2 linked regions of the Homo sapiens genome follow. The protein of the gene in region 2 purifies or fractionates together with the protein of the main gene of each other region. This does not show direct contact. Each region holds a gene or a part of one and is shown on either strand. Other genes may lie near its edges.

Region 1 (3,747 bases), about 43 Mb from region 2:
CTGTATCTATTAAAAAACAGCTTCCCGGCCGGGTGCGGTGGCTCATGCCTGTAATCCCAGCACTTTGGGTGGCCGAGGCAGGTGGATCACCTGAGGTCAGGAGTTTGAGACCAACCTGGCCAACATGGTGAAACCCCGTCTCTACTAAAAATACAAAAATTAGCCGGGTGTGGTGACACGTGCCTGTAGCCCCAGCTACTCGGGAGGCTGAGGCAGGAGAATCGCTTGAACCTAGGAGGCAGAGGTTGCAGTGAGCTGAGATCGCCCACTGCTCTCCAGCCTGGGTGACACAGTGAGACTGTCTCTCAAAAAACAAAACAAAACAAACAAACAAACAAAAACAAATCCTGTGACTTCCCAATCTCATCTCCAGCCCCCTGCAGCCACCACTCTGTTTTCTGTCTCTATGAATTTGACTCCTCCAAGTGCCTCTTATACAGCATTTGGCATTGTGTAACTGGTTTAATACGTTTGAGATGGTGAGAGCTTAAGGTCTACAGGCCTAAGGTTTTTTTTTTTTTGACAGAATTTCACTCTGTCGCCAGGCTGGAATGCAGTAGGGCAATCTCGGCTCACTGCAACCTCCACCTCCCGAGTTCAAGTGATGCTCCTGCTTCGGCCTCCTGAGTAGCTGGGACTACAGGTGAGTGCCACCACATCCAGCTAATTTTTGTATTTTTAGTAGAGACAGGGTTTCACCATGTTGGCCAGGCTGGTATCAATCTCCTGACCTCGTGATCCATCTGTCTCGGCCTCCCAAAGTGCTGGGATTACAGGCGTGAGCCACCGTGCCCGGCCATTGACTAAGGTCTTAAAATAGCTCTTCCTGCCTGTATAATCTCCATTATGGCAGGGCTCATATAAGAAGATGACAGTTCATCTGATGAGGAAGAAAACTTACTCCTAGTTAGATTGGGTTGAATTCTTCCCTGTTTCCAGCGGTGTCTGCTCCTGGCACCTCAGGCACAGTCAGGGGTAGGAGGTGGTGATCAGATACACTCGCTGTGAGCAGTGCAAGGGGAAGCAGGTGCCCAGAGGTGCATCCCGGTTTGGTGGGGGTGACAAACATGGACAGGTAAGTGCAGGAGTGTGTGCAATACTCAATCTAAGAAAGGTAGTTCAGGCAGAGTTCAGGGAAGATATCTCTGTGCAGGGCCAGACATGGGGATGAGATTCTGATAATTTGGGAATGAATCAGGCCCCCAGCCCCTCCTCCCTCAGACTCAGCAGTCCAGGCACCCGGCCCTCCTCCCTCGGACCCAGAAGTCCATGCTCCCAGCCCCTCCTCCCTTGGACCCAGGAGTCCAGGCCCCCAGCCCCTCCTCCCTCAGACCCAGGAGTCCAGGCCCCCAGCCGCCTTCTCCTGCAGGACCCCAGGAGCTTGGGTACCCACAGGCTACTAGATCCTTGTTTCTGTGCATGGAAATTCTCAAATTATCTCCAAAAGTCTATGAAGAAGGTAAACACACATTTCCAGATGAGGGAATAGGCTGATATAGTTGAAAGACACACAGAGGGTCACAGTCTGGAATTGACAGTGGTGGGATTCGAACCTATTTCACTCCAGAACTGCGTAGCGCCTTATACGCTGCGGCAAGTGTGACGTCATTCGAACAAACCATAGGCCCCGCCCCCGGACTAGCCACGCCCACAGGCTCCTGAAACCACCAATCCCAGCTGTGACAGCGCTCAGGACCGATGCTCATAGGTCCCGTCCCTAGGATCCCCGCCCCCTCCGCCCGCGCCCCGCCCCTCGCAGCCCAGTTCCGGACGCGGGCCCAGCCGCGCCTGCGCCTCCGCTCGCCTGTGGCTGCGTCGCGCGCTCTTCCTCGGAGCTACCCAGGCGGCTGGTGTGCAGCAAGCTCCGCGCCGACCCCTGACGCCTGACGCCTGTCCCCGGCCCGGCATGAGCCGCTACCTGCTGCCGCTGTCGGCGCTGGGCACGGTAGCAGGCGCCGCCGTGCTGCTCAAGTGAGTACATTCTAGCCCCGCGTGCGCGGTCAAGGCGGGCCCCCAGCGCAGGGGCCGGGAAGGCGGCGGAGACCCCCGCCCCTCGCACCCGGGTCCAGGCCCCGTAGCTCCCGACCCGCAGTGCCCGCCCGGAGTGGGGCAAACCTGCGCTCTGGCCGGCCAGGTCACCGGCCCAAGGTCACTCGGAGGGAAGGGCGAGCCTGGGCCCTTGTAAATGTTGCTTTCCTTCCAGACTTTTAAACTCTTTATTTTGTTGTTTTGTATTATTTATTTGTTCGTTTATTTTTAAAGGCAGAATCTGGCTCTGTCGCCCAGGCTGGAGTGCAGTGGCGCGATCTTGGCTCACTGCAGCCTTGACCTCCTGGGCTCAGGTGATCCTCCCACCTTGGCGTCCCCAGGAGCTGAGATCACACGTGCGCCACCACGCCCGGCTAATTTTTGTATTTTTCGCAGAGACGGGGTTTTGCCATGTTGGCCAGGCTGGTCTCAAACACCTGCCCTCAGGTGATCCGCCTGCCTCGGCCTCCAAAGTGCTGGGATTACAGACGTGAGCCACCTCGCCCAGCCTACTTAATTTAAACTTTCTTAAAAATTAGCCTCTGTGGCTGGTGGCCACTGTATTGCATGGTGCCCTTCTCTCCTGTGGGTGCAGTGCTGTTTACCTGCTCAGCCTCCTGTTGCTGGACACTATCTTGTTGCCAGCGTTAGCCTCTGTGGGACATGGGTGTGGTGGGCAGAGTCGTGACTCCGTAGAGGGGTCCACGTCCTAATCCTCGGAAGGTGTGACGACATTACCTCACGTGTCAGAGGTTCTCGCTGATGTGTTAAGTGAAGCATCTTTTTTTTTTTTGAGACAGAGTTTCGCTGTTGTTGCCCAGGCTGGAGTGCAATGGCACGACCTCGGCTCACCACAACCTCCACCTCCCGGGTTCAAGCGATTGTCCGGCCTCAGCCTCCTGAGTAGCTGGGATTACAGGCATGTGCCACCACGCCTGTCTAATTTTGTATTTTTAGTAGAGACGAGGTTTCTCCATGTTGGTCAGGCTGGTCTTGAGCTCCCGACCAAAGGGGATCTGGCCACCTTGGCCTCCCAAAGTGCTGGGGTTACAGGCGTGAGCCACCGTGCCCGGCCAAGTGAAGGATCTTATGATTATCATGTAGTCTTTTTTTTTTTTTGGAGACAGGGTCTCTCTGTCACCCAGGCTGGAGTGCAGTCATGCTGTCACAGCTCACTGCAGCCTCACCCTCCCTGGGCTCAGGTGGTCCTCCCACTTCAGCCTCCCGAGTAGCTGACTCTACAGGCGTGCACCACCAAGCCCTGCTAATTTTTGTATTTTTAGTAGAGATGGGGTGTCAGCATGTTGGCCATGGCTGGTCTCGAACTCCTGACCTCAAGTGATCCTCCTGTCTTGGCCTCCCAAAGTGCTGGGATTACAGGTGTGAGGCACTGTGCCGGTCCTGCCTTGTAGTCTTATAGGGTCCTTATAAGAGGGAGCAGGAGGCTCAGTCAGAGGGGAGATGGAAGATAGAAGGAGAGGTTGTTGGGTGTGGTGGCTCACGCCTGTAATCGCAGCACTTTGGGAGGCCAAGGCAGGCGGATCACAAGGTCAGGAGTTCGAGACCAGCCTGACCAACGTGGTAAAACTCTGTCTCTACTAAAAATACAAAAGAAATTAGCCAGGTGTGGTGGCATGTGCCTGTAATCCCAGCCACTCAGGAGGCTAAGGCAGGAGAATCGCTTGAACCTGTGAGGCGAAGGTTACAGTGAGCTGAGAT
Region 2 (3,747 bases):
CCCCAGTGCATCCACCTGATCCTTTGGGAGGCCCCACTCCAACACCTCAGGCTGTCCTCTGGGAAGAGTGACCCAAGGGCCGATATCCACTAGGCCCTCCATGAGATTGGCAGCTTCCAGCATCTTAGGGTAGCCCCAGAAAGTTCCATAACACAGGGCCTGGAAAAGATACAGGGTGGGCTGAGGTCACATCACCCTGTAAAGGACATACTGAGAAGGCATCTGTGCCTAGGGGAGATAAAAGAGGCACAAAGGTTTGGTTTTTTTTACAGCAGTGTCAGGTGGTTATTCTCTTCTTCCTCACATGTGAAATGTTAAGGAAAACAAAATAAATCTGTTTAAAAAGAGCCATACATTGCTATCTGAAAACAAACGACAAAATTCTGTGTCTATTTGAAATATCGTCTTGCTGACAAAGGGTTCATAACGTTACTGGGAATTGAGGAGTGAAGTTAGCATATGGAAGGCTCTGGAAACCAAAAGATTTACTGTTAGCCCCAAGAGGAGTTAGGATGAAGGGACAGGTCTCAAAGACCCTGATGCCAATATCTTTGAAAGCCTCGGAGGAGAAATGGTCGCCCTTGGAAAGAAAGGACTGAAGAGCACAGAGACCACAGCTCCTCCCACACACAAACCCCACACACGAGTCTGGTTTGTGCCTAGTGACCCTCCCACCGTCACCGTGCAGCCTCCTCACCGGGCTCACAGGAACTGCGAGCCAGGCTGGAGGCGAGATTGCAGTTAGATATTAACCAGGTGCCCTCAGCCCCGCTGCTTCACAGGAAGCCGCCTCCCTGAGAGTCAGGTCACAGCAGACGCTGACCGCCGGCTTCCCCATTGGCCTGGGGATAAGATCTCTGAGAGTTGCTCAAGAGTCGTCTAAGTTCTTTCTCAGATCTTGAATTCCAGCGGAAAGGCTGGCGCCAAGCAGGCTGAAGACCCCACAAGGAAGCCCACTCAGCAGCAGAATGCGGTTTCTTCACCTCCAGTCCCAAGATTCACCCCTCACTTCTCCACCAACCAGCGACCCCACATCCCAACCACCCCCGTCCAGACCCCTAAACACCCCATCCTCAAACCTCTCACGGAGGCGGATCTAGGGTGTCCTCTCCTATTAAACCGTTTCTGCTGCAGCCCTCGGCGTCCGGGTGCAGTGACTTGGGCTGCGAACCTGTACTGGTTCCGCCGCACAATCTGGGGAGAAGCGGGGCTGAGGGCGCGGAGCTGCCCAGAGAGGGGCGCCGGGGCCGGGGCCGCAGTCGCAGCTCAGGGACGGGACAGGACGCCCGGGGTCCCGGCTGCCGGCCCAGCCCCACCCTGCGGCCAAACGGACCGAGGACCGAGGTGCGCAGGGGGCGCTCAGGTCCCAGACCCCAAAGACGCTGCGGCGAGGCCCGGGTCCCGCCACAGCCGGTTCCGACTGGTTCCGACCAGCCCTTCGCCCTGCCTCAGGACGCCGGGCCCCGCACACTCACCATTTCCCGGCTGTGCGGTGTCCCGGGTCCTCCCAACTCCCGTAGTCAGGGTAGGTCCCAGCGCGACAAAAGCCACCACAGATGTCCCAGGGCGTCTCTCAGTGACAGAATACGGAACAGAGGTCACCAGGGTGAAGAGGCCACTAGCTCCTGGAACGTCACACCCTCCTCTCTGCCTCGCGCCTGATTGACAATTCTCAGGAACCCGCCCACGACTTTGATTGGGTAGCCCTCCAGGTCCCGCCTCCTGGGCACTGAGTGACAGAAGAAGCGATCTCACAGTGCTGAGTGCAGCCGGATGAACAGGTTCCAGACCCGGCCCCTGGCAGGGCGGGCTTCCTCCCTGCGTTGTGACCCGACCCGTCCCGGGAAACGTTTGCCTTAAAGCGGAATTTCCTACCTGTACGCAGTGGGCCCTTTTTGCTTCTTCCTCCTGAACAATTGTGTGCAAGGAATCCCAGACTCACTGTCCAGTGGAGCCATCCCTTGGCCTCAGAGCAGGAGGGCAGCCGAGGCCACACAGGCCACACTGTAGCAGCGGGGGACAGGGGGTGGGTGGGTGGGGGGGTGGTGCTGATGTCCTCCAGGGACCAGGAATTTGGGATGAGGCTGTCGCCTGCAAGGTCAAGCCTTTCTTCCACTATAAGCGCTGGATGGGTTCTTTCTGCGCGCTACGCAAATAAAGACCACGGTATTGCAGTTAAAAAAAAAGTTTAATAAACACTAGGCCAGCTACGATACGTGAGAGACGGAGTTACTACTCAAATTATTCTCATCCAAGGTCCTCTGGTAGGGGTTTTTCAAGGGCAGTTTGGGAGAAAGGGTGGAGGTAGCTAGGCTTGCTACTGACTGGTTGGGGTGGGGATGAAATCACTGGGGATGGAATCTGTCCTCTTGGCAGTGCGTGGTGGCTCACCGCTGTAATCCCAATACTTTGGGAGGCCTAGGTGGGAGGATCGCTTGAGGCCAGTAGTTCAAGACCAGCCTGGACATAGAGTGAAACTCCGTCTCTATACTATAAGGGAGGAGACCACCCCTCATATTGTCTTATGCCCAATTTCTGCCTCCAAAGAAGAAGTAAAAACTAAAAGGCAGAAATGAAATCCACAGGCAGATAACCCGGCTTGTGCCCTGGGCTGGGTAGTTAAAAATCAACCTCTGACCTAACTGTGTTATCTATGATTCCAGACATTGTATGGAAAAGCACTGTGAAAATCCCTGTCCTGTTCTGTTCAGTTCTGGTTACCGGTGCATGCAGCCCCCAGTCACGTACCCACTGTTTGCTCCATCAATCACGACCCTCTCACGCGGACTCCTAGTTGTAAGCCCTTAAAAGGGACAAGAATTGCTCACTCGGGGAGCTCGGTTTTTGGAGACGTGAGTCCGCCGATGCTCCCAGCCCAGCTGAATAAAGCCCTTTCCTTCCACAACTCGGTGTCTGAGGGGTTCTTGTCTGCGGCTTGTACTGCTACATATTTAAAAAAGAAAAAAAGAGGCCGGGCCCGGTGGCTCACACCTGTAATCCCAGAACTTTGGGAGGCCCAGGCGGGCGGATCACCTGAGGTCGGGAGTTTGAGACCAGCCTGACCAACATGGAGAAAGCTCGTCTCTACTAAAAATACAAAATTAGCTGGGCGTGGTGGCACATGTCTGTAATCCCAGCTACCTGGGAGGCTAAGGCGGGAGAATCACTTGAACCCGGGAGGTGGAGGTTGCGGTGAGCTGAGATCGCGCCAAGCCGAGATCGTGCCTTTGCACTCCAGCCTGGGCAACAAGAGCGAAACTCCGTCTCAAAAAAAAACAAAAAAAAGACAAAAAAAAAAAAAACCTATCCTGTTATGCTGAATCACTTCTGGTTGGGGCCACAGGAGCAGAGTTGGCAGGTGCAGGTGGTGTCAGACATGCAAAAAAAAAACAAACAAACAAACAAAAACTGAAAATACGTCTACAAATGCTAATCTACAATAGTGGTGTTATCTGCAGAAATAGCTGGCAATCTATGTCTACACTTTAGCAGCATTCCGATTCCTTTCATCCCTCAGCCTGATGGCCATTCATTCGTTTTACAAAGGCAGTTGAGTTTTGGGGAAGGCTTATTATCATTTAAGCTATCTTCCAAAGTTAGCTGTGCCTAAGAGCCCAGGATTAAGGGAAAGAGAAGACAGAGGGTTGGCAGGGGCGGGGGGCGGGGCGGGGCAGAACGGGTGTTGGCTCAGATCTCTTCCACTGCCATAATTTTCTCACTGATATAATTTTTTTGCGATCTATTCAT

What was found. The genes of interacting proteins can lie anywhere in the genome.
Region 1: the proteins of ZNF44 (region 2) and RDH13 purify together in Homo sapiens (affinity purification with mass spectrometry; 2 studies listed by BioGRID and IntAct, with this or other methods). This does not show direct contact.

Annotation. Positions count from the first base shown.
Region 1 is NC_000019.10:55,061,192-55,064,938, reverse strand, and holds the start of RDH13 (retinol dehydrogenase 13 isoform 1 precursor), read left to right. Parts: upstream 1-1,790; 5' UTR 1,791-1,906; coding exon 1,907-1,971; intron 1,972-3,747. UniProt on the Homo sapiens protein: Retinol dehydrogenase with a clear preference for NADP. Oxidizes all-trans-retinol, but seems to reduce all-trans-retinal with much higher efficiency. Has no activity toward steroids.
Region 2 is NC_000019.10:12,293,217-12,296,963, forward strand, and holds the start of ZNF44 (zinc finger protein 44), read right to left. Parts: upstream 1,668-3,747; 5' UTR 1,479-1,667; coding exon 1,476-1,478; intron 1,397-1,475; exon of another isoform or gene 1,080-1,396; intron 160-1,079; coding exon of another isoform or gene 16-159; intron 1-15. UniProt on the Homo sapiens protein: May be involved in transcriptional regulation.